2 linked regions of the Homo sapiens genome follow. The protein of the gene in region 1 purifies or fractionates together with the protein of each later gene. This does not show direct contact. Each region holds a gene or a part of one and is shown on either strand. Other genes may lie near its edges.

The links.
Region 2: the proteins of ZKSCAN8 (region 1) and ADNP purify together in Homo sapiens (affinity purification with mass spectrometry; 2 studies listed by BioGRID and IntAct, with this or other methods). This does not show direct contact.

The regions. Positions count from the first base shown.
Region 1 is NC_000006.12:28,140,830-28,157,695, reverse strand, and holds the start of ZKSCAN8 (zinc finger protein with KRAB and SCAN domains 8), read right to left. Parts: upstream 15,814-16,866; 5' UTR 15,667-15,813; intron 15,486-15,666; exon of another isoform or gene 15,433-15,485; intron 13,366-15,432; exon of another isoform or gene 13,272-13,365; intron 9,381-13,271; 5' UTR 9,289-9,380; coding exon 8,872-9,288; exon of another isoform or gene 8,858-8,871; intron 8,214-8,857; coding exon 8,072-8,213; intron 5,852-8,071; coding exon 5,760-5,851; intron 5,436-5,759; coding exon 5,312-5,435; intron 4,641-5,311; coding exon 3,679-4,640; 3' UTR 1-3,678. UniProt on the Homo sapiens protein: May be involved in transcriptional regulation.
Region 2 is NC_000020.11:50,886,525-50,903,390, reverse strand, and holds the end of ADNP (activity-dependent neuroprotector homeobox protein), read left to right. Parts: intron 1-1,281; coding exon 1,282-1,374; intron 1,375-8,878; coding exon 8,879-11,986; 3' UTR 11,987-14,473; downstream 14,474-16,866.

The sequences.
Region 1 (16,866 bases):
TTAAAAATGATATAATTGTAACCCCAAAAAGCATTTTCCACCAATTTTCCAGTAATTGTAATGTATTTGCACTCTACTGCACATTCTTTTCCCCAGTACCTCTCATGACAAGCGCTACATATTTTTAAAAAGCTGGTTAGAATTACCATGTTCATTATACACACCTTAGCACAGTAGTCAGAACAGGCTCTAGAATCAAACTGTGTGGGTCAGAATCAGTTTTATCACATACTGGCTGGGTGATATTGGTCAGCTCACTCAACTAAGCCTCCGTTTCCTCATTTATAAAATGGGGGATAAAATAATACCTATTGATATGGTTTGGCTGTGTCCCATCCAAATCTCATCTTGAATTGTAGCTCCCACAATTCCCACGTGTCGTGGGTGGGACCAAGTGGGAGGTAATTGAATCACGGGGGCAGAACTTTCCTGTGCTGTTCTTGTGATAGTGAATAAGTCTCACAAGATCGGACGGTTTTATAAAGAGTTCCCCTGCACAAGTTCTCTCTTTGCCTGCTGCCATCCATGTATAAGACATGATTTGCTCCTCCTTGCCTTCCACCATGATTGTGAGGCGTCCCCAGCCATGTGGAACTGAGTCCATTAAACCTCTTTCCTTTATAAATTACCCAGTGTCAGGTATGTCTTTAATAGCAGCATGAGAACAGACTAATACATTTATCATGAGCCTGAGAAAGGCATAACAGGGTTGGGCACATAGTAAGTGCTCAATAAACGTCGGCTATTATTATTTGGAGACTCAGAACCAAGAGTAAAGTTAACTGCTCTGTTTGGGAATCAACCACCATATTCTAGCACTGCACCTTGCTCCATGGAGAAAATCTCTGAAACCTAACATGCCTCTCCCAGGGCTATGTTGGATGGCATTAGAGTTATGAAAGAACCACCTTATCATGTCAGTTCCTAAAATGAGAAGCTTAGGATGGGAGGAGAAAGTACTGATGAATAGTTCATTTCAGATGAACATAAAGATAGAATCTATAGGATAAAGGAGCTTAATGAATGCCATTCACAGTTAAGAGCTCAAAATGTCATACAGCCTAGTCAATAATATTCTATGCTAAGAGTGTGAACTTGAGACAAAGAATGATTTCTAGTGATGTCCTCAAAGAATCCACAGCCTTTTTCTATTGTCTTATACCATTTGGCTAATTCTGTATATGTGCTGTATCAGCTTTGATAATTCTTTCAAGACACAGTCTTTTCTCACACCCAATATAACACTAATTTTTCTAGTCATATTATTTTCTCCAAATTTATGCCACATGCTTAGTAATTCTGAGATTTAAGTAATCTGGCTACATATTACTCTTAATACTGACACATAAAGAGACTTTAGCTAGTACATCTGTATACATTTCAATGTGTTGCTCTGGTCTATGGCCATACCACCCTGAATGCACCCAATTTTGTTAATATGTTGCATTGCTAAAAGGACTTTTTATTGGAATAGAAGAGAAGCGTTCTTCTAAAGTGTATGGCAGGTGTGTGTGTGTGTGTACATACACATGTGTACATACACATATATTTTCCCTCTGACAATGCACCCATCATATGTAATATTTGCATACAAGGTAATACTGGCCCCAGGAAGAATCAGTATCTTACAGAGGGTAAGGCACAACTGAAACACAGAGCAAAGATCTAGATACAACCAGATTTACTTGTTTCTGGTTTCTTAAAATTTCAAGTACAAAGAAACTAGGAATGGTAACTTATAAATAAAAGAAACAAGAGAAGGGAGGATAAGAAAATAAAGGATAATCGAAAGGACTGTTGGAAACCAACATGACAAGTGATGGGTGTCTTCATTCACCAATGGCTCAATGAAATTGATGTAGATAATTCTGATGTTGTTAGTGGTCAAAGTGGGCCATAGAGAGGCAGAGAAGGAATGTTATAGGGAAAGAATTTATGATCCAAAAGGTGGTCCTCTATGACGTAAGACTTTGATTGCTTTTTTTGGCCCATCAATCATAAAATGATTATTATTTCTTTTCAGGATAGTCACAGGGTGAAATTATGAAGCTTTCATCAGAACCTATATAATTTTTTTTCTGAATAGGCTCAATGTAATCAATTTTAAGTTTAAAGGTTAATTTTGGAAAGCCCAAAATTTCTCAATTCCAACTCTGGTGAATAAGTGGCTACTCAAATGGTAAAACTAAAGTGTAAGAGTAATAGAGGGTTTTCTCATATGGTTTATTAAATGGGAATTCTAAGAGTGTTCCAAATATTTGGAAGAATATAGTAGTATGGAATAATAGTACTTGGGAATAACAAGTGACAACCCACATTGGATGCGTAAGTTCTGGCATGTTACTTTAAACCAGTCTCATTACTTTATATAGTATTCCTTGGTATAACAAAAGCCTCAAAGATGAAATATAGTGCCTGGTGATACTGAGTTTAAGAGTACATCTTTGTTGGTAGATTATAGACATGGATTACAGATGGAGTGCACCAGAGTTCAAAAGAATGAAAACCTGTGAGGTAAGGTATTAGATTACCACTGTGGATATTAAAGTCATATAAACTAATGGCAAGAAACAGATGGAGAATAACGAGTGAGGTGCTGAGGCCATCTAAAGAGATGGGTGCAAGGTAATGATAGGAGTGACAGACCATCTAGTCAGGGAGTTTGCACAGGCTGTTAAGAACCTGAGAAAGCAGTATTGTAATGGGCCAAAAAAGATGAGTATACATTCTTTGTAAGGTTTTTATCTTCCTAAAGCATCTTCGTCTCCTTCTCCTACCTGATGCCATAACTAGGATAGTGCCAACTATCTGTACCACAGTGTACAGTGGGGAGGTGGAAGGAGAGTCAGAAGTCACCAAAATGTATAACTATCCAAGCTCAAGAGCAGCTGGGCTGAGTCTCCACTCACCTCTTTCTCTGTATTACTCCCATAACCATTACTAATGTGTCCACTTTCTTTACTGACACAGGTGCTGGGACTGGGGGTGGTGAAGGATATGTACAGATGCTCAATGACTCAATGGAGTCAGTGAAGGTGATACATGAAGAAAAATGCTGGAGTGCTGTTAAAAATATAGCATTCTGAGTTTGTATGGGAATACAAATTTCCACTGACTAGAAGGAATATTAGAATAAAAAAATGCACACTTAAGCATAAATACTTTAAGTGTCTGTAAAATTTTCCTAGAAAGCTACATACAAATATAAGTTTCACACAGAAGCTACTTCTGACTCTACAGCAGCTTCTTAGATCAGATTAGGAATACAAGGGCACCTTCAAGGGAATAAATGGGAGAGGGGGATCACAGGAGATGGGAAGAAGCACAGGAACTAGGAGTAGCCAGCCTCTCTCAAACCTATAGCTACTCACCCAAAAGACAAAGTTAAGCTCTTCAAGCCATGACAAGCAACTTGCTCTAATGCTATTTTAAATTTCTAAAGGATACATTAGGTCATCAGGAGCTCCATCAGATACTTTCAAAGACAGTCAAGCTAATCAACCTTCACCAAGGCACTGGGCCCAAATTACTAAAGAGCTATCCTAACTTTGCCACCACTATAGATTCTGACACTAAAGTTGTGATGACCTTTCTGCCTTTTAGTACACTGAAAGACCTCTCACCAGTGTGTGGTTTCCCTAATGCTGAATAATGCTCAAACTCTAACTGATGTTGTTCCTAAACGCTTATGGATTCAGATTTTTCACCACTGTGGATTCTCTGATGTCGAATGAGACTTGACCTCTGAATAAAGGCTTTCCCACACTCATTACATTGGTAGGGCTTCTCCCCTGTGTGAATTCTCAGGTGTTGAATGAGACCAGTGTTCCCATTGAAAGCTTTCCCACATTCTTTACATTTATAGGGTCTTTCTCCAGTGTGGATTCTCTGATGTTCAATAAGGCCTGACTTCTGACTGAAGGCCCTCCCACACTCATTGCATTTGTAGGGTTTCTCCCCAGTGTGGCTCCTCTGATGACCAATAAGATGTGAGCTCCGCCTGAAGGTTTTCCCACACTCATCACACTCATAGGGCTTCTCCCCAGTGTGGATTCTCTGATGTCCAATGAGGTGTGAGCTATGACTGAAAGCTTTCCCACACTCATTACATTCATAGGGTCTCTCTCCACTGTGGATTCTCTGGTGCAGAATAAGGCCCGCACTCTGACTGAAAGCCTTCCCACACTGATTGCACTGATATGGCTTCTCCCCAGTGTGGATTCTCTGGTGCAGAATCAGGCCTGTGTTCTGACTGAAGGCTTTGCCACACTCCTTACAGTGATAGCGTTTTACTTTGTTGTGGATATCCTGATGTGAAAGAAGGGCTGACCTGTAACTGAAGGCTTTACCACACACATTACACTGATAGGGTTTCTCCCCAGTGTGGATTCTCCAGTGGCGAACAAGGCCTGAGCTCTGAGCAAAGCTTTTCCCACATTCATCACATTTATGTCGTCTCTCTTGTGTGGGATTTCCCCGCTGCCTCTCTAATCTGCCCAGAAGGTCTCGGGCTTCTTCATGCTCAAGACCCCTGATAACATCCCCGTTGCATTTGGCAGCTGTCTCTCCATGTGGCTGGATTCCAGTAGATATTACCTGTTTTGAAGCTAATTCCCTGTTCTCACTCCTGGTCTCACCACCTGAAATAAAAATGTAATAAACAAACATCAAGCCAATGTCACAACCTATTCTTTATGCTAGGAGAAAGGAACTGAAGATAGGGGAAAAGGAAAGTACACATGAACAGCTATAAGTAAACACAAAACTTCTGTCTCCAAAATAGCTTCTTAATAGTGACCTTGCTTAATATGAGCTAGTCAACTGGGAAAGAGGTACCATTAAAAAAAGAGAGTTAATTGGAAGGGGAACTAAAGTCAGGAAAGGATGAACTGAAGTGAGGTGAAAGTTGGGGAGAGGAATATGGAACTACTAAAAGAACTAATGAGCAGGACAGAAATGGGAAAATGCCCAGTCATCAAAAGGGAGGAGATACAATTAATTTATGTGAGAAAAATATATGTAGGAATCCCATGACAACTTGGAGAAGAAATATATGAACTCAGAGAGCACCTCTGAGATGTCAATTTCCAACTGGCAAAAACGCCAGTACCCTGGTACAAAATGTAAGGAAGTTCTGGACAGGAGAACAAAAGTTTCACGTAAGATTTCAAGAAATCTCAACATCATATCCCTCTGCTGGATCCTGAGTTAAACTTAACTATGTCTTTCAGAAAGGCTGTAGCTACTATACACATAAACAACAAACAAACAAAAAATCTAAAATGACAATAATAACCACACCTCTCCTTACCCAGGGAGAACATGTTTCTGAAATTTTCTGGCCTGTTATCTCTACACAGATCCTTCTGTGATGGATCAAGAAGCCACTCCTCTCGAATAAGGGACACAGCCATGTCTTCAATCTTCTCCAAAGTCTGAAACAAAACAAGATCCCCATTTGGGGACTGGGACTGTTCCACAGCTCAAACCTATAGAGCTTGAGAGATCCACCAGTATTGGGAGAGAATTACAACTTGGGAATGTACTATGTAAAGGGATCTGAATAGCTAGGAAGAAGAGGAAAATGCATGAGATTTACTGGGGGAAATTCAGGATCAATCTGTCCCTAGGCAAAAGAATTTTTGGGACAACTTTTTGGGTAGGTACTGCTACAAACTAGACAGTCAAGATATAGGGCAGATGCCACAAACACTGACAAGCACAGCTATGGCGTTTCAGTGAGAAGGAGCACAACTCACCTGGAACCCTGCTGTGAGAAGTGTAGCTGTCATTTCCTGGTCTCCAGAACTTCCTTTCTGGGAACGAGTAGGACTCTGGGAAGTAGACATGGCTGAGAGGAGAAAGGAGCTATGAATGAGACCAGTCCTGTCCTGTGGTTGTGGGAGCTGGCACTCACCCATTCCAAATTATTTTTATTTCAGCAGATATACATGTATGCCAAAGATTTTGCACATGAAGTGCTGATATCTTGGATTCTGGGGCCATATCTATGGCTGCCCCACAAAACATACGCACCCCGATGTCCCTGAAGTCAGACTGAAGTTACACTCAAAAATAGAAAGTATACTGGTTTCCTAACAGGAATCGCTTTTCAATTTCTTCTCTACCATCAAAACTACTTCTGTCTTTGTGGCTGTATACAGTATTTCCTTAGGTCCTAATCTCTTGGCAAACCAAGTATCAGAATCAACCAGTCTCTATTAATTAATTACCTTTCTGAAATGTCTACTATGGCTCCCAGTATTTGCTTTCTATAGATATTAAACGGCTTATTATTAAAATATAGATTACTGTATCTCAGGTAACAAGCTTTAGGACTTTAGACAAGAAGTATTAAGTGTTTTAATGCTTCTTTAGAAATATTAAAAATTCATATTTATAAACTACTCTAAATCACATTAATGAAAAAATATGAAATGCAGGGGAAGATGAGACTGGAACACCTCATTCTGCAATAAAGTAAAAAAATTCTCAAAAAAACAATGGGAAAATGTCAAGAGGATACAAGAGCCAGACTGAAGGGGCCTTCTATGGCCAAATCTGAGATGATTTAGCAAAATAAAGACAGTGGCCGAGCACAGTGGCTCATGGCTGTAATCCCAGCACTTTGGGAGGCTGAAGTGGGCAGATCGCTTGAGGCTAGGAGTTCGAGACCAGCCTGGCCAACACAGTGAAACCTCGTCTCTACAAAAATACAAAAATTAGCCAGGCATGGTGGCGTGCACCTGTAATCCCAGCTACTGGGGAAGCTGAGGATTAAGAATCGCTGGAACCCGGGAGGCAGAAGCTGCAGTGAGCTGAGATCGTGCCACTGTACTCCAGCCTGGATGACAGAGTGAGACTCTGTCTCAAAGACAAAACAAAAACAAAATAAAGACAGTAACAGAATATTTATGGAATAAATACGAATTTGAGTCCATACTGATAAATAAAAAATAATAAAATTGGGAGAAGGGAGCACTCTCCTTTACAATAAAGAAATGTAGAAGGAATGACAGAGTTAGAAAATCACTATTTCATAACCATTCTAGTAATCACTAAGTCAGTCAAGAAGTACCAATGAACACTAAAACTAGTGTTTTAGCAACAAAGTTTAATGAGGACTAAGATATTTAAATACACTCAAGAGTATCTTCCACAAATTACTTATTAGTTACAAAGGGAAAAATAGTAACTATACAATGATTAACCCTGCAAGAATAACCTTAACCAAGTCATCAAAGATAACACCACCAATAATAGGACAAATTCCTGTTGTACCCCTAAGAAGGAGTACAACATCTCTTGTTAAGATTTAGGTCATGTATCCTTGGCAGGGTGAGGTGTTCCTGCCAAATATATATGACCTCAATGTAAACATGATCAAACATCACGCAAATCCAAACTGCAGCCATTCTACAAAATAACACACCTGTACTCTTCAAAAAAAAAGAAAGGTTGAGGAACTATTCCAAAGTAAAGGAGACTAAACAGCCATGACAACTAACCACAAAGTGTGACGCCAGACTAGACTCTGAACCAGAAAGAACATAATTGGGGCAACTGTCAAAATATGAACTATGGCCTAGGTTAGTATTGTAGCAATACTACATTTCTTAATTGTGATAAATTTAGGAATTTATTTATTTAAGTTACCTAAGAAATGCTCGTCTGAGGAAATACATACTGAAATATTTCCAAATAAAGTGGCATGACAATACCAGCATAACCTCAAAAATGTATGTTGTAAATGTACTGTGGTAACAGAAATATGGCACATGTATACATATGTAACTAACCTGCACAATGTGCACATGTACCCTAAAACTTAAAGTATAATAATAAAAGGAAAAAAAATTAAAAAAAAAAAAGTCAAATTATTTAATTTGTTCATGAGTTTACCACTAGAAAGAATAATCTATATTTGAAGCCTAAACATTTAAACACAGACTTTGGGACTGGTCTGTAAACAGGATTTTAGTTCCTGGTTCTTCAGGAACTAGATAGGTATCCCAAATGGACTTTTATTTGTACTTCCCCCCCTTATCATCAATGAAATCTGGCTACTCACCTCTCTCTTGTGACTCTTGGGGCACTGGAGATTTATGTTGGGTTGCCTCAGATTGGAGCTGAGTATTTGGAGGCTCTGGTGCAGATGCTGAATGTACTACCTCCTCCCAGAGTACCCTATGTCCATGTACGCGAGCTGAGACCTGGAAACAACAGACAGTTGGATAATAAGGAATCCCTTTGCGAAATGTAATGAACAATGAAAGAGGACCACGAACACATCTACAGGGATATATGCTTGGGGAAGGAAGCAGCAGAATCTTCCTCACTTCTTAGGGACAGTAAGGAACACGAATACGTAATGAGCACAGAAAGAAAGGCATCATTTTTGCTTAGTACTAAAGGAAAAGATTTCTGCTGATGCCTTCCCTGTTACACAGAACACCAATATTTTGTACTCCTAAGGCAGAGGAAGGAGGAAAACAACAAACTTAAAGCAGTGCTATGCAGTAGAAAAATCTTTTAATAAGGAACTAGAAAGCCTGATTTCTGGTCTCAAATTTACCTTTAATTATTTGGATACCCCTGAAAAATTAACTTAAGCTTCCTATGCATCAAGTTCCCATCTGGCAAACAAGAACAATACAGTCGTAGGGATGTTATGACGACAAAAACAAAATGGATTTATATCCTTTACAAAAGTAAAAAGAACTCTACAAGTCATACTACACTAAAACTATTGTCATCCTTATCCAACAGAAACTGATGCTAAGCATCTGCTCTCCCACTGTGATGCCTATGTCCCTCTACCAAGCTTCCAGGACTCCCACAGTCATAGCACGCATACCTCCTTCTACTTACTGGTCGTCCTAGTATATCAATCTGCCTTTCCAAATCCTCTAATAGGGTCACCACCTCCTCTCCGTTCTCTAGCTGATGTTCCTTAACCAGTGTCTGGAGCTCCTCAGGTAGGATGGTCAAGAACTGCTCCAGCACCAGCAGCTCCAGGATCTGTTCCTTGGTGTTCAAATCTGGCCTCAGCCACTGATGGCAAAGGGCCCGTAGTTGGATCAGAGCTTCTCGGGGTCCTAGTGTCTCCTGGTAGCGTAACTGCCTGAAGCGCAGGCGGAACACTTCTTGGCCAAGAGGGTTACTTTCATGCAGACTAGATTCCTGGTCCCAACCATGATCCTCCTCTACCTTGACGATTACAAGATCCTCTTCAGGAGTCTGGTCTGGTGGGGATGGGGCTGAAGGCTTTCTTGATTCTTCAGCCATTAGAGCCTGAAAAGCTCAGGAAGTTCGTTTCCACTACCTTCTTTATCTTCTTAAGAGAAGACTCTTCTGAGGGCCTCTTTCTAAGGGTACTTCTTCATGAAGAAAATATGATAGTGTTAAGGCAAGTCAAAAGTCATTGTAACTAACTATGGTATCTTAACAAGTTCCTTAGTATGACACGGACTTCATGGCTCGGCCAATTAAATGATCCTCCCCACTGTTCCAGAAATAACTTCTTACTTCCTTAACTTTCTGTCATGCCAGCCATGCCAAACCCATCCATAGAAAAACCCCTTCCTTCTGCTTTCATCACCCTGTTTGGGGATGTGGAACATGGCTAAGCAAAGTCAGGAAACCATGTAGACTGGGTCTAGTTGAAATTTTGTGTTTAATCTCAGCTGGCCTTCAGGGCTGCTCATTTAACCCCTTTTAGTCTTTGATACACCAGCTGTACTAATCTGGTTCTACACGCTTCAGCTCTCAACCTTTCCCTTACTCTTAACAGATGAGACTAATTTCTACATAATCTAATTCAAGGTATTGTCAAAAACTTTCCTAACACTTTGCTCTTCTCCACCTAACATTCCTTATCCTACCTGTGCCCCTCATCTTTCCTCCTATCTCAAGGTTAACTTCCTCTACTATGGACGTGACCTCCAACTCAGAAACTCTCTATGGAGCACTCCAAGGAACCTGGATGCCCTATTGACAACTACAACCCAAAAGTCTACTCCCACACTCAAAAGGCTACATACTATATGATTTTATTTATGTGAGATTCTGGAGTGGGAATGTTTAAATGTTTATCCATTTCCCAGTTGAACAATATCTGAGTTGTTTTTGTTTTTTAATCACTATGAATAAAGCCACTATGAACATCTGCATGAGTTTTGGTGTGAATATAGTTTTCATTTTATTTGGGCAAATATTCAGAGGTAAAATTGCTGTGTCATAAAATACATATATGTATAACTTTATAAGAAACTGCAAAACTGTTTTCCAATCTGACTAGCACTTGATATTGTTTTTGTTTTTAATTTTAGATATTCTAATAGGTGTATGTGTAGTGGCAACTCATTATGGTTTTAATATCTCATATGGCTTTAGTATGCATTTCTCTACTGACTAATAATGTTGAGCATCTTTTTATGTGCTTATTTAACATCTATATATCTTCTTTAGTGAAGTATTTGTTCAAAACTTCTGCCCATTTTTAAATTTAGTTATTTTAAAATTAAGTTTTGAGTTTCTTACATCCTCTGGACACAAGTCCTTTATGAGATATGTAATTTGCAAGTATTCCCTCTTTTTCATCCTTTTCATAGGGCCTTTTGAAGAAAAAAAGTTCATTTTTTTAATTGACTGTGCTTTTGATGTCATATCTAAGAAATCTTTGCTTAATCCAAGGTTACAAATATTTTCTCCTGTTTTTTACTAAAAGTTTTATAGTTTTAGGTTTTACATTTAGGCCTATGATCCATTTTGAGTTAATTTTTATATAGAATTTGAGGTATGGATGGAGGTTCATTTTAAGGATTCTCCTTTATCTACTTAACTGTCTTTGTATATTTGTCAAATATCAGTTCACTATATGTATGTATATGTAAGGGTCTATTTCTGGAATCTCTGTTCTGTTTATTGACCTATACATCTATTCTTTCACCAATACAGAATAGTCTTGATTGTGTAACTTTTAAAATCTTGAAATCAAGTAGGTGGGTCTTGCAACTTTGTTGTTCGTTTTCAAAATTATTTTCACTTTCCTAGTTCTGTTGTCTTTTGATACACATTTTAGAATCAGTGTATTAATTTCTACAAAAAATTATTGAATTGGATTTGTATTGAATCCATAGCTCATTTTAGGGACAACTGATATCTCAACAACAGTGAGTTTTCCATTCCGTGAACACAATGTGTCTCTCCGTTGAAGTCTTCTTTGACTTCTTTCATCAGTACCGACACTACTTTCTTAAAGGACAAGATAAAATACTGTTGCCTTTAAAAATCCTTTCCTGGTGACTCCAATTGGAAATTATTTTCCTCTCATTCTATACCTCTGTTACTTAAATGTGTATTGCTTTAATGTTACTTTTCCCATAACTGTATATTTATTAGTTCCAAAGGAATTCTGACTTCAAAACTTAATTGTATTTTCCCCATGGGCAAAGGTCCATATCTTTTATCTTATTGATAGAATCGAAGAACATTAGCCATATTTACAATTGCAAACACAGAACATGTTTATATTTCTTGTAAGAGTGAGATTTAGAAACAAGACCTGATGTCCGAAAAAAGTTCAATTTCATGATCCTATTTCTTTGTGAAATATATGTCTATGGTTTCCATCCTTGGTATAGACATCATCTCTTGCCTAGAACTGCAATGGTAACTTTGGTTATGCTTTTTTCCCATTCATGTTCCACAATATTGCCTACTGTGTGTTGAAATGTGTCCCTCAAAAAGATATGCGGACATTCTAACCTCTAGTACCTGTGGATGTGACCTTATTTGGAAATGGGGCTTTGCAGATGTAATCAAGTTAAGATGAAGTTATACTGGAATGGGTAGGCCATTAAACCAATATGACTGGCACACTTTTAAAAGGAAAAAAGACACAGAGACAGACTCTGAGAAAGGAGAAGGTCATGTGAAGACACACACACACAGATGAATGAGAGCTAAGTGACTACAGAAGCAGAGATGGAGTTGTGCAGCTGCAAGCCAAGGAATGCCAAAGTTTGTCAGTAAAAACAAGAAGCTAGAAGAGCATGGGTCTGGCGACACTCTGATTTTGGACATCTAGCCTTCCTAATTATGAGACAGTAAGTGTCTATTCTATTAAACTACCAGGTTTATGATACTTTTTTTTTTTACAGTAGCCCTGTACTGCCAGAGATTTTTTAAAAATATGTAATATGACTAACATGACTCACCTCCTGAAAATATTTCAATAGGGACCAAATTTTTTAGCATGGTATGCAAGGCCCTTTATGAATGTAAACCTGGCTGGCTATATCTACTTTAAACTCACTTACATAAAGCCTTTCTGGGCTGTGGCTTTCTCATACTTCCATTCTACTACAGAGTTCTTTACTCTAGCTCAGTGGTTCAAAACTGATGGCAATATTGTCCTTACCCCCATCCCAGGGACCTTTCATAATGTCTGTAAATATTTTTGTTGTCACAACTTGGGGGTAAGGGGTGCTACTATTATCTTGTACATAGAGGCCAGGGATCCTACAATGCTCAACACAGCCCCCACCACAAAGAATTATTTGGCCCAAAGTGTCAATGCCAAGGTTGATAAATCTTGGTCCAGCTAAAACCATTCAACTCTTTTTTTTTTTGTTTGAGATGGAGTCTTGCTCTGTCGCCCAGGCTGGAGTGCAGTGGCGCGAACTCGGCTCACTGCAACCTCCGCCTCCCGGGTTCACGCCATTCTCCTGCCTCGGCCTCCCGAGTAGCTGGGACTACAGGCGCCCTCCACCACACCCGGCTAATTTTTTGTATTTTTAGTAGAGATGGGGTTTCACTGTGTTAGCCAGGATGGTCTCGATCTCCTGACCTCGTGATCTGCCCGCCTCGGCCTCCCAAAGTGCTGGGATTACAGGCGTAAGCCACTGTGCCCGGCCTAAAATCATTCAACTCTTAACTCTAATTTATCTATTACCTTTTTCATGAGTTCTTCTCTGTCATCCCCCTGCCATTTGTCATTCCTACCAAAGCATTTTTAACATGGTCCAAATATAGGACTTATCACATTGTGAGAATGTGGCCATGGCCTTATTGCAAATGTTTGTTGACAGAGGTGACCATTATCTTTGTATTTCAAAGATACTGTAGAGAATGAAGAAGAGTGTAAGTAAAGGTAGCATACCCTAAACCAGTTGTCATGAGATGCTAACATCAAGATAAAACCAGAGACCTATAGTCCACAAAGAAGAGATAGGTACTTAGGAAAAAAATCAGATTACTGTACATACAGTTCCCCATACGGATCATCAAGGCAGTGCTTATCTTTTCAGTTTTTGGAGTTGTGGCACGGGGCGAGGGGGGTTGGTTTATAGACTCTTCAACCTAAAGAAAACACAGAACTTCTTTCCAGCAAAATGTCCACAGATACAAAATTGTATACTCAATTTCGGCAGAGTTCACAGACTCAAAGGCCATCCAAGAATGCCAGGAAGGTTAAAAACAAACAAACATACAAACAAATCCTACATAGAGAGTGTGTACAGAAAAGAAAGGGAATTTGAAAATTATTTTTCAAGTTAGACAAGGCCGGGAACAACAGGGTGGAGAGTAAACTACAGATCAGAAGAACCAAGGAGCAAAAGATATGGTTAAATATATCAATTAACATTGGGGGTATAGTTCATTGATTATGACTTTACAGGAAAGTGGAGGAATTTGCTAGAATAGTGAGATTTGGGGGAAGAGTGAATTTGAGGAAGATGCTGAGATTTTGTTGAGAAAGGGTAATCAATTTGGTTTTGACAATTTGTTTTTGTTTGAATAAATTATCTATAATTTTAAGATAATTTATTTTAAAATGGTCTTAGCTAATTTTAAAATAATTTAATTTTTCAAATCAAAACAAACTCTTAAATTTTCTTAAAATAGCTACTTATGGTTTAATGTTAAAAACTTAAAGGTCAATACATGGGACATAAATTCTGTTTAGAATGTGATGTTATATAGTGGTAGTCTTACCATGTTTTCTTATAAATTTCCTTAAAGCCAAGGTTCATTTTTAACTACTGAACAACTGGCCATCTATTACTGAGCAATCCTCATCCATAATGGCTATAAAATATTATTATTATTATTTAGGGACAGGGTCTCACTATGTTGCTCAGGCTTGAGTGCAGAGTCTATTCACAGGTGCAATCCCACTACTTACCAGTACAGGAGGCTATAAAATATTTTAATGTGAAGTGCGCAGCATTCAAGAACTTTATATTGTTGATGTGGTATTAAAAAGTCTCAATAACAACACTGATGAAAACCAGCTAATTATCAGGTTTGTTCATTTTTTATACCAAATCAGCCAACAGGTCTTGCCCATTGCTCATCTTGATTATTCTATTTAGTGGCTAATTTTCCATTTTTTTAAGTCTCTTCCCTCTCTGATCAGCTGGTTTTTGAGAATTACAACCTATAAATAACTGAGTGCAAAATTACTCCAGTATGTACCTTCCTCTCAGTTTTGTGCGTACATGTCTGTATTAAGTTGGTGAGCACTTTGTGGATACAGACTGATTTTTACATAGTCTCCTTAAAGAACACCTAGTCAAGTTTACATGAGTTTAAAAGGCAATCTTTAAAGCTTCCTCTGGATTTTAAATACTGTAATCCTGTGAGATGCTGAAGGCACAACTCAATTTTAACAGTATTATTTTTTCAATAGTTGTGGAAGGAATGTATTCTTCCTTCAGACTATGTCTAATTTGAGAAATGTTTGGGAACTGAAAACAAAACAAAAAAGACATTTTCCAGGATTTAAAATCCAAGAAAAAGTAGGTGAAGCCAATACTATGCTTTGTTATCTCAAATTGCATTAGCTGAAAGTTTTAATTAACATCTATCACATTTTACATTTAAACAACAGAAATTCAAAACATGTATGTATTTGCTAAAACAATGATTGCTACGTAAATATACTCAACGGAACTAACAAACAACAGAAATATGTTTTTAAAGGTGGTGGTGGCAGTCAAAGTAGCCTGACAAAAATTACTCATGACTAACCAGAGTTTTGGAAATGGGGCCCTCCCAGAGTTCCTCGTTGGCTAACTTCAGTTTGCTTTAACAAATGAAATAGGCATTCTGATAATGTTGAATTCTGAATTACCCTGAAATTAAAAAAAAAAAAAAACTTTCGTACAATTATCTAGTCAACACACCACCAGTTTCTGAATACACTAAAGAAAGAAGAGTAACAGCAAAAATTGGTTTCCATGGATAAACGGGGCTTCCAAAAGCAAAATATGTCTTTTTTAAAAACTGAGAATTTTGTTGTGACCTAAACGCAAAAGAGCGCTAAGTGAAAACAATTCAGACTCTGGAAATAGTTGGATAAAAAATAACATGGGGGGGGCGTTCCCCATTTTAAGATAAACAAGATCGACTACAAAAACATACCACAACACGATTATCTATGAAGAAAGCTTCATAAAAGGTTCCCTCGCAAAAAGTTCAAGGGCAATTCGTGGGGACGTACTCTGCCTGCAACAGCAACTAAGGCGTCAGAATCGGTCCGCGGCGCCGAACACCGCACAGGCCCCTCTCCGGACCCCTCAGGCCAGTCCTCAGCTGCGGCCTGGACCAGCCACAAAGCACCCACTTTCCTCCGGCCCAGAGCCCGACCGTACTCACTGTGAGTTGCAGAGGCGCCCCGTCGTGGGGAAGGGAGGCTGCAACGGATAAACAGACTCGAAGGAAGGTCGGGGAGTAAAGGCGATGAAAGCTGTACTCGGACCAGGCCCCTCCGGCCACTAACTTCTAAATCTGCGGAGGCACAACACCGGCCAGCACGCATCTTGCCCCAAAGGCACTTCCGGAAGCTCTCTAGGAGTCCTGGAGGTCTACAAGCTCTATGGTCGGCCGACTGAGGGTACCGGAGTACCACGCCCCTCACCTGCTGTGTGCTGTGCCTCGGGTTCCTCCCGCGTCTGCGTGCCTCAGGCTTGCGCTGTCGCTGGGGCAGTGAACGTGCTGGGGAATAACGGACCTTGGTGTCCCCTCCGCCTTGTGTGCCCATGCAGCTCCGCGCGCTCGCTGTCAATAGTAACGGTCCCCTGGGGGTAGATATCGGACGTGGGGAGGCTGGAGCTGTGAATAGGAGGCTGGGAAAGTGTTGGAGGAGGGAGCACTTCATGGATCCTTAGGATTCCAACTGGATTCGCGTTTGGCTCCGTTACATACCCTGTACTTTACTGTTCTCGATTCATAAACATATCCAGACCTCTCACATAGAGTACAAACTTCATGAGGAATTCCTGCTAATCACAGTTCATAGTTTTGTGAAATCCCTATGGCATGGCACTTAGGAATAGCATATTTTATTAAGTATTCAAAAAAATCGTAATTAAATATATATTCTTTTTGGATCTTTACATATTTCCCACTCTTTCCTATCTTAATGAATTTCTATCGCTTACAGCATCTGCTTTGCTGCTTAGCTGTTTTAATGCTAAACCTATGATGTAAGCTTGAAGAGTAGACCCTAGGTTTAATACCACAAGATATGGGGAACAAATCTATGTTCATTCTTTCTTTGTTAGTCTTTTTTTCTTTTTTTGCCTTTTTTTTTTTTTTTTGAGACAGGGTCTCTATTGCAGAGTGTAGTGGTGTGATCATAGCTCACGGCAGACTCAACCTTCTGGGCTCAAGCAGTCTTCCCACCTTAGCCCCCCAAGTAGCTGGGACTACAGGTGTGCACCACCCTCAGCTTAAAAAAGAAAATTTGTAGAAACGGGGTGGCGGGGCGGGGCGGGGGTCTCACTATGTTGCCCAGGCTGGTCTTGAACTCCTGGGCTCAAGTGATCCTCCTGCCTCAGTCTCCCAAAGTCCTCG
Region 2 (16,866 bases), on another chromosome or scaffold:
TTTGTTGCCCCTTTTGACCCATCATAGACTATTACTTTCCCCCTTGTATAACAGTTTGGGCTTTATGAACTGTTTTTCAAGCTGTTTTATTCTATGAGCTTTATAACAGCTCTGTGGGATAGCCATGCAGTGGTCTCCTTTTCAACATCTCACTGTTCCAGGTCTTATGGTTTGTTGGTCAGAGCCCCTGATTGAAAAGAAATGTTTGAAGCTGTTTCCCCCACTAACCTTTAAGTTCTAGGTGGCTAGGGAACATAGCTACCTTGTTTATCCATTTAGCCCCAGCACCTAGCACAGTGTTTTGCACGTAATAGGTGATCAGTAAGTGTTTGAATGGAATTGGAAGTAAAAAAGCAAATTCATTCATACAACAGGTTTTCTTAATTTGAGTTCCACTAATAATACTTGAAGAGTATGGCATGGAAACAGAAGCTGCTCAAAAGTTGACTTCTCTAGTCACGTTGTTCCAAGTGTGGAAGTAGCCCTTCTCCAACCCCAGAGTTCAGGTAGATCTGCCCAAATGAAACAGTCCATTCACTTTGCACTCTGTGGGGTCATCTTCATAGAAATAATTAATACCAACATCACAGTACATTTCTGTCATGCATTTGATTTGTTCCTCCTATGATTATTTATGTGTAGACTTCATTTTCCACCTTGAACTGTGAACTTTTTAGGAACAAGTGGGATTTTACCCTAAGACTTTTAATCTTCCTAGTCTGGAGGGAAGTGGACCATTAAATTTTTACATGAGAGTATAAATTTAACATCATACTGCTTAACTTTCTTTGAATAGCTTTCTTTCTGCCTTTTTGGGTTTGAAATTTGAGTTTTCTTCCTGATCTGATCTCCTGCCCCCTCCCCTCGAAAAAAATCTTTTTTTTGCACAGAACCAGAAATCATATTTGCAGTGCTGTAAGCAAACATTGCTATTTTAGACACCATTCCAGTACTGTAACTGACGAGTTAGAGTACAGTACTCTAATGAAAAGTGCTTTGATATTAGTGTGTGGCTGAATTTTTTACTTAATTAGAACTTCCAGCAATTTCCTTGGAAACCTGACTGACCATCAGGAAAGTGGTTGGTTGATATAAAATGTAGACTGCAACTTCCATATGCCTTTTTATATTTAAGAGCCTTATCACTCCTAGTTTAAGTCCTTGTTGACGTTGGTTTTCCTGTGCCTCTCCCCATCTTAGTTAAGAGGTGAGATTTACATGTAAGATTGGGTTAGCGTTTATACCACTATGTTTTTGTAAACTTATTTCACTGTTTTCTAGGATTTTAAACAATTTGAACCTAATGACTTTTATTTGAAAAACACTACATGGGAGGATGTAGGACTGTGGGACCCATCACTTACGAAAAACCAGGTAAGTGGCACAGGAGACTTCCTCAGATGGCAGCATGCTTGGTATACTCCCTTTTCAGCTCTAGGCCTTTTATAGCGGTGCAGTGATTGCGGGCAAGTGCCAAACATCGAAAGTGTCAAAATTGCATTTCATATTTTCCTGACCAGTGGGAAGACTAAGAAAAACTTTTTGTCCTTTTTTGTCATTGGACTAAAACTTGAGGTGTAAGAAGAAACAAAATTTTGTTACTTAAAAGTTACGAAGCCTGCTGTATCCCACCATTTCCCCTAAAAGTGCTCTGGCTCTATTTTTCTGCATCTGTGTTGCCATTCTTGTTTTTTCTGCACAGAAAAAGACAAGACCCTTCCTTACATTTAAGCTTTTCTTATTTCCCTATGTTGATGGCACCCAACTTCTATGGGAGGCCTGGGGAAGTGACTCTGTAGGATGTCAGTGACAGAGAGATAAAACTTCTTACAAATTGGCATTAAAAACAATATTAGCACTGCCAGCAAGTATCAATAGATGATGATGATGTCATATAGGTGATATTTCCTTCTGCATAGAGAGAGGTAATTGTCAATTTAATTTTTACCATTACCTATTTTAGGAGTGATTCTCATTCTGCATTAATGATCTGTTCATCTATCGGAACATACTTTTCAGGAAATTAGTACTCAGATATTTGACTTTTTTTTTTTTTTTTTTTTTTTTTTAAATACCCCAGGCAAAGTTACTAACCAGCAGTCTTAGAATGAGAATGCTTTCCAGTGGGACACATCATTTATTTAATTCAGTTTTATCAATCTGAAAGCCTCATAGCTGAATACTAAAGAAGAGTTGAGCTTTGAGGAGAAGCAGAGTATTTCATCATGGTTCAAACCAGTATCTGAAACAAGTAGGTTTCTAGGGAGAAAAGATAATCTCTTACCAAGCATGTCAGTTCACCTGCCTTCATCAAAGGACTGACTGCATAGGTGTTAACAATCATAATTCTGAAAGTTGCTCTTTGATATCAGTATATTCTATAATGTATTATTGGCTTTTAAATACCTCACCCTCCTCACAGTCTGTAGGACATTTTTATTTAACTTCTTGATTTGAATCAAAGCAGCTATTACTTCATTAGCTCTTTTGAAGTGTTCTTGGTTGAGAAGGAACAGCAAGGCTTATAGAAGAAAGCCAACTTTTCAAATCAGTCTTTCTTTTGATCAGCGCTGAATCTGATACTACACTGTACTTTAATCAGAGGAAAAAATGGAGATTTGCCTTTTTTCTATGAAAATTTATCCATAATGAGGAAAGGAATAAAAGATATAGCTTTATCTCTTGTAATTGTCTAATTGCACTAAAACATCGTGGGCCCTGAATTTTACCGCAGTCATTCACCACATAACGACATTTTGGTCAGTGATGAACTACATCTACGACAGTGGTCCCATAAGAATATAATTGAGCTGAAAAACTTGCTACCTTATGACATCATAGCGCAACATATGATTCATGTTTGTAGTGATACTAATGTAAACACACCTGTGCTGCCAGTCATAGAAGTATAGCACATACAGTTATTTACAGCGTATAATACCGTCGTGCATTGCTTAATGATGGGATGCATTCTGAGAAATGCCCTGTTAGGTGATGTCATTGTTGTACAAACATCATAAAGGGTACTTACACAGACCTAGGTGGTATAGCCTCCTATTACCCCTACGCTATATGGTATGGCCTGTTGCTCCTAGGCTACAAACTTGTATGGCATGTTACTATAAGAGAATACTATATACTGAATACTATAAGAGTGATTAACACAATGGTAAGTATTTGTGTTTCTAAACATAGTGAAGCATAGAAAAGGTACAGTAAAAATGCAATATAAAAGAAAAATTGGTACACCTATATTGGGCACTTGCGGGACTGGAAGTTGCTCTGAGTGGTGACTGAATATGAAGGGACATTATTGTACATCACTGTAGACTTTATAAACACACTTAGGCTACATAAAAAGTAAAACTTTAAAATTCTTAACTTCTGAATCTTTTGTAATAACACTTAGCTTAAAACACAAACACGGCAACCTGCCCGGGTCCCCTTCCACACTGCGGAAGCTTTGTCCTTTCACTCTTCATAATGAATCTTGCTACCGCTCCAAAAAAAAAAAAAAAAAAAATTGTACAGCTGTATAAAAATATTTTGTCTTCATATGCTTACAGGCTTTTTCCTAGTCTTAAACTTTTTTTTTTTTTTTAACTTTTTAAACTGTTGTTAAAAACTAAGACACAGACATAATTAGCCTAGGCCTACACAGGGTCAAGATCAATGGTATTACCATTGCCACCTTCACAGCTTGTCTCACTGGAAGGTTTTCAGGAGCAGTAACACGCATGGAGCCATCATTTCCTGTGATGGCAGTGTCGTCTTCTAGATACCTCCTGAAGGATCTGGCTGAGGCTGTTTTAGAGTTAACTTTTTTTTAAAAAATATAGAAGTAAGTGGTACACTCAAATAATGATTAAAAACTCATTACCGGCCGGGCGCTGGGCTCATGCCTATAATCCCAGCACTTTGGGAGGCCGAGGCAGGTGGATCGCCTGAGGTCAGGAGTTCGAGACCAGCCTGGCCAACATGGTGAAACCCCCTCTCTACTAAAAATACGAAAATTCGCCAGGTGTGGTGGCAGATGCCTGTAATCCCAGCTACTGGAGGTTGGAAGTGGGAGCGGGGAAGGCAGGAGAATCGCTTGAACCTGGGAGGTGGAGGTTGCAGTGAGCTGAGATCGTGCCATCGCACTCCAGCCTGGGGGACAAAAGCAAGACTTCATCTCAAAAAAAAAAAAAAAACCTCATTACCAAAATCCTTGCATACTTAAGTCCCACAGTTGGCCCTGGAGAACCTGCATATACCAAAAGCTAGCCCTCTGTATAAGAGGGTTTGAGCATCCCAAGAATACTGTATCTTTGATCTACATTTGTTTGGAAAAAATCCACATATAAGCAGTTCAAACCTATGTTGTTGAAGAGTCAACTGTATAGTAAATACTAGGTGACAGAAATTTTTCAGCCCCGTTATAATCTTGGGGGAACATAGTCCCATATGCAGTCTGTACTAGACAGAAAACATCAGCACATGACTTCCTGATAATGACAGTTAAAAACCGTATTGCCAGTTTATGTATTTACTATATATACTTTTTATTTTAGAGTGTACTCCTACTTTTTAAAACAGCTTTTCATGGTAACTGGTAGCAGCCTCATACAGCTTGTGTTCACTGTGTCTCTTGATTGCATCATTCTTGTGCATGGTTTAATCTCATGGTATTTTGTTCATCATGGCCCCTAAGCATACAAAATCCATAATGTTGCCAGTAAGGGGCCATGTTGAGTGATTGACCTGGAAACAGAAGTGATTAAGGACTACGAAGGTGGAGAATCAGTGATGGTTATTTCTTGCCAGTCAGGCTTGTCCCATTTTACCATAGCTATGATCTTGAAGAACAAGAACAAAGTGACAGAAGCTGTTAAAGCATCTGCTTCATTGAAGGCAATGAGACTAACAAAAATTCAAGAAGGGCCTTTATCAGACACACACAAGCTTCTGATGACCTGGATTGAAGAGCAGACACAGGTGCACACGGTGCTGTGTACCTCTCAGCACCATGATGATCCCAAAGCAAAAAGTGTGTTTGAGGTGTTGAAAGAAAAGGCTGGACCTGGCTGTGATGTTGAATTGACTGCTAGTTCTGGGTGGTGTAAACAATTCAAGAATCGTTATTCATTACATAATGGGAAAGTGGTGAGTTTGTGAGTGCTGATGTAAAGGCAGCGGAAGAATTTTGGGAAACTCTAGATAAGCTGAGTCTGGAGGAAAATCACTTGCCAGAACAAATTTTCAATATGGATGAAACCTTTCTATTCTGGAAACAGATGCCTGAAAGGACTTTGATCCATGAGGTAGACCAAAGCAATGCCAGGCTTCAAGTCTTTTAAGGACTGGATGACAGTCTTGCTTGGGGGCAATGTTGCAGGCCACAAATTGAAACCCTTTGTGATTTGGCATGTTGAGAACCCTAGGGGCTTCAAGCATATCAATACACACACACTTGGCCAGTGCACTGCAGGAGATATAAGAAGTCGTGGGTGACCCTGCTCCTCTTTCAAGATGCCCTCCTGAATAGATATGCCTGCGAAGTGGAGAAGTAGTATTGAGAGAATAACATACCCTTCAAGCTTTTGCTTATTGTCGCTGATAAGCAAATGCCTCCTTTAAGTGGTGTTTTTCATCCCAGTATCAAACACCACCTCTTTGATCCAACTGATGGAGTTACAGCAGCTTTTAAGGCGTACTATCTGAGAAAGGCCTTTGTCCTGTCGTCGCAGCTTAGGGAGACACTGAGAAGATTCTGATACAATTCTGGAAGGATTGCAATATCTGTGACTGCATTAAGAATCTTGCTTGGGCTTGGGTTGATGTCATCAAGGAGTGTATGAATGGCATCTGGAAGAATACACTCAAGAGGTTTGTCCATGACTTAAAAGGATTTGCATAAATCACAAAGTCTGTGATTGAGATGGCAAACAACTTTAACCGGGGTGTGGATGAGGACAACAGGAGCTCCTAGAGGTGATTCCTGAGGAATTGACTGGTGAGGAGCTGTGGGAACTAGAACAAGTTCCCGCATAGGTGAAGAGGAAAGAGAAAAGGAAACTGCAGGAAAAGCAAAAGAAGAACCCTCAAGAAAATTCAGTGAAGGATTTAGCAGTGCAGACCTCAGCAAGCTCCTTAAGTCTGAAAACACGTGGCCGGGCTTGGTGGCTCACGCCTGTAATCCCAGCATTTTGGGAGGCCGAGGCTGGTGGATCATCTGAGGTCAGGAGTTCAAGACCAGCCTGGCCGACATGGTGAAACCCCGTCTCTACTAAAAATACAAAAAAATTAGCCGGGCGTGGTGGTGGGGCGCCTGTAATCCCAGCCACGAGGCTGAGGCAGGAGAATCGCTTGAACCCGGGAAGTGCAGGTTGCAGTGAGCCGAGATTGTGCCATTGCACTCCAGCTTGGGTGACAAGAGCAAAAAAACTGCATCTCAAACAACAACAAAAAAGTTTGAAAACATGGATCTCAATACCAAAAGGTTTTTATTAATAGAGAAGAATATTCATGGTTCATTATCTGCTTACAATCAAATCTATGATGAAAAAAGGAAACAAAGCACCGTGGGCTTATTCTTGGTAAGTGTGAGACCTCCTCAAGAAAAGCCTAAGGCAGGTCCTTCTGCAGTTATCCAGAAGAAGGCATTGTTACCATGGGAGATGGCAGTTCCATGTGTGTTACTGTTCCTGAAGACCCTCCAGTGGGACAAGATGTAAAGGTGGAAGATAGTGATACTGTTGATTCTGACTCTCTGTAGGCCTAGACTAACGTATGCGTTTGTGTCTTAGCTTTTAAGAAAAAAAATGTTTTTAAAGTTTTTGGTTTTTTTTTGAGACGGGGTCTTGCTCTTGTCGCCCAGGCTGGAGTGCAATGGCACGATCTCAGCTCACTGCAACCTCAGTCTCCTGAGTAGCTGGAATTAGAGGCGCCTGCCACCACGTCCGGTTAATTTTTTGTATTTTTAGTAGAGATGAGGTTTCACCATGTTGGCCAGGCTGGTGTCGAACTCCTGTCCTTGTGATCCACCTGCCTTGGCCTCCCAAAGTGCTGGGAAAGTTTTTTTTTAAAACAAATTTTTTTAAGCTTATAGAATAGGCATATGAAGATAGAAAATATTTTTGTACGGCTGTACAATGTGTTTGTTTTGGGGGTTTTTGTTTGTTTCTGAGACGGAGTCTCGCTGTGTTGCCCAGGCTAGAGTGCTGTGCTGTGATCTTGGCTCACTGCAACCTCTGCCTCCTGGATTCAAGTGATTCTCCTGCCTCAGCCTCCCGAGTAGCTGGGATTACAGGTGCCTGCCACCATGTGCAGCTATTTTTTTTATTTTCAGTAAAGGTAGGGTTTCACCATGTTGGTCAGGCTGGTCTCAAGCTCTTGACCTCAGGTGATCCACCCGCCTGGGCCTCCCAAAGTGCTGAGATTACAGGTGTGAGCCACTGTGCCTGGCCAATCTGTTTGTGTTTTAAGCTAAGTATTACTACAAAAGAGTCAAAAAGTTAAAAATTTAAAAGTGTATAAACCACAGCAAGCTGAGGTTATTATTGAAGAAAAAATATTTTTTAGGGCTCGGCACAGCGGCTTGCAATCCCAGCACTTTGGGAAGCCAAAGCGGGAGGATTGCTCGAGCCCAGGAGTTCAAGGCCAGCCTGGGCAACAGAGGGAGACCCTGTCTCTACAAAATTTACCCTAGTGTGGTGGCACACACCTGTAGTCCCCAGGACTGAGGCGGAGGTGGGAGGATCGCATGAGCCCAAGAGGTTGAGGCTGCAGTGAGCCGATTGTGCCACTGCACTCCAGCCTGAGCAACAAAGTGAGACTTTGTCTCAAAATTTTTTTTTTAGTAAAACTTGTGTAGCCTAAGTGTTCATAAAGTCTACAGTAGTGTACAGTAATGTCCCAGGCTTTCATATTGACTCACCCAGAGTAACTTCTAGTCCTGTAAGCTTTGTTCATGGTATCATTTATCTTTTACATTGTATTTTTACTGTACCTTTTCTGTGCTCAGCTATGTTTAAACATACAAATATTTACCATTGTGTTAATCATTGCCTATGGTAATCAGTACAGAAACATGCTGTACAGGTTTGTAGCCTAAGAGCAATAAGCTATGCCATGTAGCCTAGGCGTGTAGTAGGTTCTACCATCTAGGTCTGTGTGAATACACACTTGAGGATTTCACACCATGATACATTTTTCAGAATGCATCCCTGTGGTTTAGCAACACATGACTGTATAGTAAACCTGAAGTCTTTAGTAACTTCCTTCATTTAGGTTATTCTTGTTATTTCTAGCTGCAAAATGTTTATCTTCAAGTCATTTGTCTTTGGTTTAGCTAAAATGTGACTTTTTTTCCCTAAACATTGAGAAAGAACTTAGCATTTTTTTAATTTACACTGACAAAAATATTTGGTTTAAGATAGCTTTTTTTTTGAGTTTCTATTTTATAAAGTTACTATACAAAAGGGGAAAACATACTAAAATCAGTGCTTTTTTTTGAGACAGTTTCGCTCTTGTCGCCCAGGCTGGAGTGCAATGGCCGATCTCGGCTCGTTGCAACCTCCACCTCCCAGCTTCAGGCGATTCTCCTGCCTCACCCTCCTGAAGTAGCTGGGATTACAGGCGCCCACCACCACGCTCAGCTTATTTTTTTGTATTTTTAGTTGAGATGGGGTTTCACCATGTTGGCCAGGCTGCTCTTGAACTCCTGACCTTGGGTGATCCACCCACCTCAGCCTCCCAAAGTGCTGGGATTACAGGCGTGAGCCACCACGCGCGGCCTAAAATCAATGCATTATTAAGAATATCCGGGGGGGATCTGGAATCTGTTAACTGCCTATCTGAAGTGGCATTCTAATTCTAGTTTTTGTGTTTACTTTAGGACTATCGGACAAAACCTTTCTGCTGCAGCGCTTGTCCATTTTCCTCAAAATTCTTCTCTGCCTACAAAAGTCATTTCCGCAATGTCCATAGTGAAGACTTTGAAAATAGGATTCTCCTTAATTGCCCCTACTGTACCTTCAATGCAGACAAAAAGACTTTGGAAACACACATTAAAATATTTCATGCTCCGAACGCCAGCGCACCAAGTAGCAGCCTCAGCACTTTCAAAGATAAAAACAAAAATGATGGCCTTAAACCTAAGCAGGCTGACAGTGTAGAGCAAGCTGTTTATTACTGTAAGAAGTGCACTTACCGAGATCCTCTTTATGAAATAGTTAGGAAGCACATTTACAGGGAACATTTTCAGCATGTGGCAGCACCTTACATAGCAAAGGCAGGAGAAAAATCACTCAATGGGGCAGTCCCCTTAGGCTCGAATGCCCGAGAAGAGAGTAGTATTCACTGCAAGCGATGCCTTTTCATGCCAAAGTCCTATGAAGCTTTGGTACAGCATGTCATCGAAGACCATGAACGTATAGGCTATCAGGTCACTGCCATGATTGGGCACACAAATGTAGTGGTTCCCCGATCCAAACCCTTGATGCTAATTGCTCCCAAACCTCAAGACAAGAAGAGCATGGGACTCCCACCAAGGATCGGTTCCCTTGCTTCTGGAAATGTCCGGTCTTTACCATCACAGCAGATGGTGAATCGACTCTCAATACCAAAGCCTAACTTAAATTCTACAGGAGTCAACATGATGTCCAGTGTTCATCTGCAGCAGAACAACTATGGAGTCAAATCTGTAGGCCAGGGTTACAGTGTTGGTCAGTCAATGAGACTGGGTCTAGGTGGCAACGCACCAGTTTCCATTCCTCAACAATCTCAGTCTGTAAAGCAGTTACTTCCAAGTGGAAACGGAAGGTCTTATGGGCTTGGGTCAGAGCAGAGGTCCCAGGCACCAGCAAGATACTCCCTGCAGTCTGCTAATGCCTCTTCTCTCTCATCGGGCCAGTTAAAGTCTCCTTCCCTCTCTCAGTCACAGGCATCCAGAGTGTTAGGTCAGTCCAGTTCCAAACCTGCTGCAGCTGCCACAGGCCCTCCCCCAGGTAACACTTCCTCAACTCAAAAGTGGAAAATATGTACAATCTGTAATGAGCTTTTTCCTGAAAATGTCTATAGTGTGCACTTCGAAAAAGAACATAAAGCTGAGAAAGTCCCAGCAGTAGCCAACTACATTATGAAAATACACAATTTTACTAGCAAATGCCTCTACTGTAATCGCTATTTACCCACAGATACTCTGCTCAACCATATGTTAATTCATGGTCTGTCTTGTCCATATTGCCGTTCAACTTTCAATGATGTGGAAAAGATGGCCGCACACATGCGGATGGTTCACATTGATGAAGAGATGGGACCTAAAACAGATTCTACTTTGAGTTTTGATTTGACATTGCAGCAGGGTAGTCACACTAACATCCATCTCCTGGTAACTACATACAATCTGAGGGATGCCCCAGCTGAATCTGTTGCTTACCATGCCCAAAATAATCCTCCAGTTCCTCCAAAGCCACAGCCAAAGGTTCAGGAAAAGGCAGATATCCCTGTAAAAAGTTCACCTCAAGCTGCAGTGCCCTATAAAAAAGATGTTGGGAAAACCCTTTGTCCTCTTTGCTTTTCAATCCTAAAAGGACCCATATCTGATGCACTTGCACATCACTTACGAGAGAGGCACCAAGTTATTCAGACGGTTCATCCAGTTGAGAAAAAGCTCACCTACAAATGTATCCATTGCCTTGGTGTGTATACCAGCAACATGACCGCCTCAACTATCACTCTGCATCTAGTTCACTGCAGGGGCGTTGGAAAGACCCAAAATGGCCAGGATAAGACAAATGCACCCTCTCGGCTTAATCAGTCTCCAAGTCTGGCACCTGTGAAGCGCACTTACGAGCAAATGGAATTTCCCTTACTGAAAAAACGAAAGTTAGATGATGATAGTGATTCACCCAGCTTCTTTGAAGAGAAGCCTGAAGAGCCTGTTGTTTTAGCTTTAGACCCCAAGGGTCATGAAGATGATTCCTATGAAGCCAGGAAAAGCTTTCTAACAAAGTATTTCAACAAACAGCCCTATCCCACCAGGAGAGAAATTGAGAAGCTAGCAGCCAGTTTATGGTTATGGAAGAGTGACATCGCTTCCCATTTTAGTAACAAAAGGAAGAAGTGTGTCCGTGATTGTGAAAAGTACAAGCCTGGCGTGTTGCTGGGGTTTAACATGAAAGAATTAAATAAAGTCAAGCATGAGATGGATTTTGATGCTGAGTGGCTATTTGAAAATCATGATGAGAAGGATTCCAGAGTCAATGCTAGTAAGACTGCTGACAAAAAGCTCAACCTTGGGAAGGAAGATGACAGTTCCTCAGACAGTTTTGAAAATTTGGAAGAAGAATCCAATGAAAGTGGTAGCCCTTTTGACCCTGTTTTTGAAGTTGAACCTAAAATCTCTAACGATAACCCAGAGGAACATGTACTGAAGGTAATTCCTGAGGATGCTTCAGAATCTGAGGAGAAGCTAGACCAAAAAGAGGATGGTTCAAAATACGAAACTATTCATTTGACTGAGGAACCAACCAAACTAATGCACAATGCATCTGATAGTGAGGTTGACCAAGACGATGTTGTTGAGTGGAAAGACGGTGCTTCTCCATCTGAGAGTGGGCCTGGATCCCAACAAGTGTCAGACTTTGAGGACAATACCTGCGAAATGAAACCAGGAACCTGGTCTGACGAGTCTTCCCAAAGCGAAGATGCAAGGAGCAGTAAGCCAGCTGCCAAAAAAAAGGCTACCATGCAAGGTGACAGAGAGCAGTTGAAATGGAAGAATAGTTCCTATGGAAAAGTTGAAGGGTTTTGGTCTAAGGACCAGTCACAGTGGAAGAATGCATCTGAGAATGATGAGCGCTTATCTAACCCCCAGATTGAGTGGCAGAATAGCACAATTGACAGTGAGGATGGGGAACAGTTTGACAACATGACTGATGGAGTAGCTGAGCCCATGCATGGCAGCTTAGCCGGAGTTAAACTGAGCAGCCAACAGGCCTAAGTGCCAGGTTCCCTGGCGTTGGTGACATGCTGCAGCCTGGAACTCTGATATCCAGTGTGACTGCAAAGCTGTCTTCTCACTGGTACTGCCTTGTGAGTACTGGTTGGACTGTGGGGCATGTGGCCGCTGCAGTTCCAGTGGTTATTTCTAAGTCTATGACAGGACAGGCTGTTCTTGCTTCAGAACCTTCTCTGACAGACACGGTAACTAAATGTGAAAAACCAATAAGCTGGTGACTCATGAATACACACGAGGAAAAGCAGAGGTTTATTTTATCTGCCTTTTCAACATTTCTTTCCCTCTGTGAAATGATTGGTCAGATGTCTTTGAGAAGTGTTAAACTAATTCACATGGTAGTGTAGGGCCAACATACAAGCTACCAGTCTAATGTGTATAGTAGACTTTGGGAAAAGCGATTTTTTTTCATGTATTCATTCTGAATAGTTGAAATGTATATTTGTACAGTCTTTTAGACCTATTCAAGTGATGCTCATGATCCTGTTACTGTGTGCCCATCATAGATTTCTTTTTTTAGTGTTGCCCTTGCTGTGTAATAAACGCTCTATCTAGTTTACCTAGCAAAAGCTCAAAACTGCGCTAGTATGGACTTTTTGGACAGACTTAGTTTTTGCACATAACCTTGTACAATCTTGCAACAGAGGCCAGCCACGTAAGATATATATCTGGACTCTCTTGTATTATAGGATTTTTCTTGTTCTGAATATCCTTGACATTACAGCTGTCAAAAACAAAAACTGGTATTTCAGATCTGTTTTCTGAAATCTTTTAAGCTAAAATCACATGCAAGAATTGACTTTGCAGCTACTAATTTTGACACCTTTTAGATCTGTATAAAAGTGTGTTGTGTTGAAGCAGCAAACCAATGAGTGCTGCATTTTGGATATTTAGTTTTATCTTTAGTTCAACACCATCATGGTGGATTCATTTATACCATCTAATATATGACACACTGTTGTAGTATGTATAATTTTGTGATCTTTATTTTCCCTTTGTATTCATTTTAAGCATCTAAATAAATTGCTGTATTGTGCTTAATGTAAATATTTGCTTTATTACACATGACAGTCCTGTGTGTCCATTATATCTTTTGCCATTTAATGCCATAACTCTTTCATCAGAGATGGCAGCCACAGTCACAGAGGAAACTTGTGGAAAACCCAAGATCTGTCATCTGCAAATAGAATGCTTTCTCTTGAGGCACCTGGTACAAAATCTGTTTTTCTTTTTTTTTTTTTTTTTTTTTTTTTTTTTTAACTGAAAAACAAACACCCTTGAGTTTTTCAGTTCACCTTTTGTTAAGGAGCAGAGCCTGCATATATATGTAAATGTCTCAATGATAAAAAAAAAAATGTAAACATGGATTGGCATTAATTTGCAAGCAGAATCTTAATAGCCTGATGGGTTTTTTGTTTGTTTTTTCTTCTAGATGAAGTTAAACGTTCGTTTTCACCTTACGATGGGAACAACTGTAGTGCAGGCGGCTCTGCCTCTATTTGCCACTCTTGGCCCTCTTGCTATTAAGGGAAAGGCTTTGAAGAGCACAGCACTGACAGGGCTGTAAAGATGGAAGGAGCTGGTATTTTTACCATGCGTAGATTCCCAAGAGAACTTGTACTAAAAAGCAGAAAGTTACAAGGAAGCAGAATTAGGCCAACATTTCCAGCAATTAAAACAATGATGGGAAACTCCAATCCATGAGGAGGCTGGTCAGTCACCTCAAGGATAGTGGCCTAAAGAAGTCTGAAGTGGCTGATGTCCATAACTTCTGAGTCTGTTTCCAAAAGAAAGACTCTTGTTAATGCTGTTACCAGAGAGTAGAGATTTGACCAGCCTCTCCCTAAAATGTAAGCTTCTCAACAACAGTACAGGAAGAAGTGCAAGAGTAGACTAGAACCTTTAAGGAATTTGGGGCTGGAACGGAGCTATGTTGCATCTGTTGTTATACAGGTAGATTATAAGTTCTACATGCACCAGCCAAAACTTAGGACAGGATGTCCCCAAATTAAGATACTACAGATTACCAAATCAGAAATAACCAGCTGGATTTAGGCCAGCTCACATTTATTTGGAAATTACCCTCCCTGATTAACAGGCTTCTGAGTTGTACGTGGAGGACTAATGAGACTTGTACAAGACACCACGGGGCTTGGGGTCCAGGTCCCAGTTGGATATCGGAACAGACACAGATAAGTGTGTTTCCTCATTAAGGTGGTGAGAGTGTGCCTTTTGGCATTCAGAAAAGGGTTTAGCCACCCTAAGAGTTGGAAATAAAGATTCCCAACTGGAAATGTTGCAGAATCCCTACAAGTGTCTCAATAAAAGCCATTTTAAAAGAATATTGTTGCTACTGTTTGCTTTTCAAATAATCTGGAGATCGTTGGCTATGGCAACGTGCTGCCACCTAATTAGAGAATGCCTGTAAATGTAGGCTGAACACTTCTAACATGAGAAAACCTAAGTATCCTACAGAGGTTTGGTGTGTTTTGTTTTTGTGGGTGTCGGGGGAAGGGGGTGGGGAGGCGTGTTTTTGGCCCTGCAGGTTTTCTCGTGGGAATGAGTTCACTCAGACAAGCTAGGACTGTGGCTTCTTTCCCTGTTCATCACATAGAGCATTTTCTCATCCTATCTTTGGTTCCTTGTCATTGTATAGGGAGAGGAGAATCTTTATCAAACAGCTTCATTCCCTCTTGCAATTCAAGCAGAAAGGGTATCTATGCCTCATATCGCTCTAGAGTTGTATGTCAGTTTGATCCCAATGCCTACTCCTTTGTAACATCCATTTCTGGCATGAACAAAATGAGTGCCAAATTTGAAAACTGCGATGTATTAAAGATGGGAGTTTCCCATCTGAGATGCTTCACGCTAGAAACAAACCTGCTTATTGCCAAATAAGTACTACCATACAGAAGTGTAGTTCCTTTACTACTTAGACCTCAGACTACTAGTACTGAGTCCTCGAGATGAGACTCAAGAATTATCACTAGGTGGTTCGTTTTTTTGTTTGTTTGTTTTTGAGATGGAGTCTTGCTCTGCTGCCCAGGCTGGAGTGCAGTGGCGCCATCTCAGCTCACTGCAACCTCCGCCTCCTGGGTTCAAGCCATTCTCCTGCCTCACCTTCCCAAGTACTGCCGGGACTACAGGCACGTGCCCCCATGCCTGGATAATTTTTTTTTTTTTTTTTTTTGTATTTTTAGTAGAGACAGGGTTTCACCGTGTTAGCCGGAATGGTCTCCATCTCCTGACCTTGTGATCGACCCGCCTCAGCCTTTCAAAGTGCCGGGATTACAGGCGTGAACCACCACGCCCATCCATCTCTACATGGTTCTATGCCACTAACATTTGAGAACCATTTAGCTTGATGGAAATTTTCTTTCCCTAATGAAATTAAGTAGAACATGTTGAACACGTGGATTTTGCAGAGTATCAGGCAGCGTTTTGTTTTGTTTTTCTGCCTGTTGTGACCCTTCCAGCCCCCCTGCTGAGCAATAATTAGGTGCCAGTTGAGGCATGTTTCACCAAAATGTCATGGAGGAACATCTCAAAAGCTTCCAGAAGACTAGAAATGAAGAGGCTGCTCCCACCATTAGGAAATGGCATTCCAACATACCAATTATCAGTGGGTCACCATGAGGTAATCTAGAAGAAAAACATCTTAGCTGATACAAACTTGACAGGTTTGAAAATAAAAGGCATTTCTCCCATCTGCTGCAAAGTTGGCTTGAAAGCTTGACCAAAGCAAGGTCCCCATTTGCTAATTCTTTGCATCCTGCTTCCCACCAACTTGTACCACTTCGGTAACGGACTACTCGCTGTAACTTGAATGTAGTGGAGCTACAGTATAGGGGGGGTTGTGTTTTAAAGTCAGCATATAAGAGTTGCATATAGTCAAAATCACCCCCGAAAGTTCTTGTCATTATTTCAAAGTGTCCAACCAAGAGGAGGGGACGCGGGAAGGAAGGTCCCTAGTCATTTCCAGAACAAATCTTCCACGCTATTTAATGAGTTTGGCTGCATGTGTGTGTTTTCAGCATACAGCGTTAATGGATCTGTGATGCAAACCCCTTCCCCATCCAGGACACCACCTAACCTTAAGGTGTAAGACCATTCGAACCTGAACTGGTTTTTGCAATTAAAAATCCTTATTTTGGCCGGGCGCGGTGGCTGACACCTGTAATCCCAGAACTTTGGGAGGCTGAGGCAGGTGGATCACCTGAGGTCAGGAGTTGGAGACCAGCCTGGCCTACATGGTGAAACCCTGTCTCTACTAAAAATACAAAAATTAGCCGGGCATGGTGGTGGGCGCCTGTAATCCCAGCTACTCAGGAGGCTAAGCCAGGAGAATCACTTGAACCCAGGAGGCGGAGGTTGCAGTGAGCCAAGATCACGCCATTGCACTCCAGCCTGGGTGACGAGTGAAACTCCGTCTTAAAAAAAAAGAAAAAAAATCCTTATTTTATTTATGTACCTTTAATGATGTCTTATTACTATAAGTGAAGCAAAATGGATACTCTAATAAGCAGAGCAGGCACCTTTTAGGAACCATAAAGCAGAAGTAAAAGGGCTTTTCCAATATACTTGATGTGAGTGCTGTACTGGCTGCCATCCTAGACTGCAGTGGGACGTGACAGCTGTGTACATGAAGTAGCCAGTCTAGGAATCAAAAGTAGAGATCCCGCCTTGGAGAGATGGAGGAAGAGACAGTGGCATGACTTAGCCATTGCCACTCCGTCTGCCAGCAAAGCTGGATCAGCATCCCCTGGGGAAGCTCAACTAGAACCCTCTCCCCCAAGGACAGGACTCCGGACAAGGGGCTCCGCTACACCCTACAAGGACAATATTGTTCCTAAAAACACCTGAAT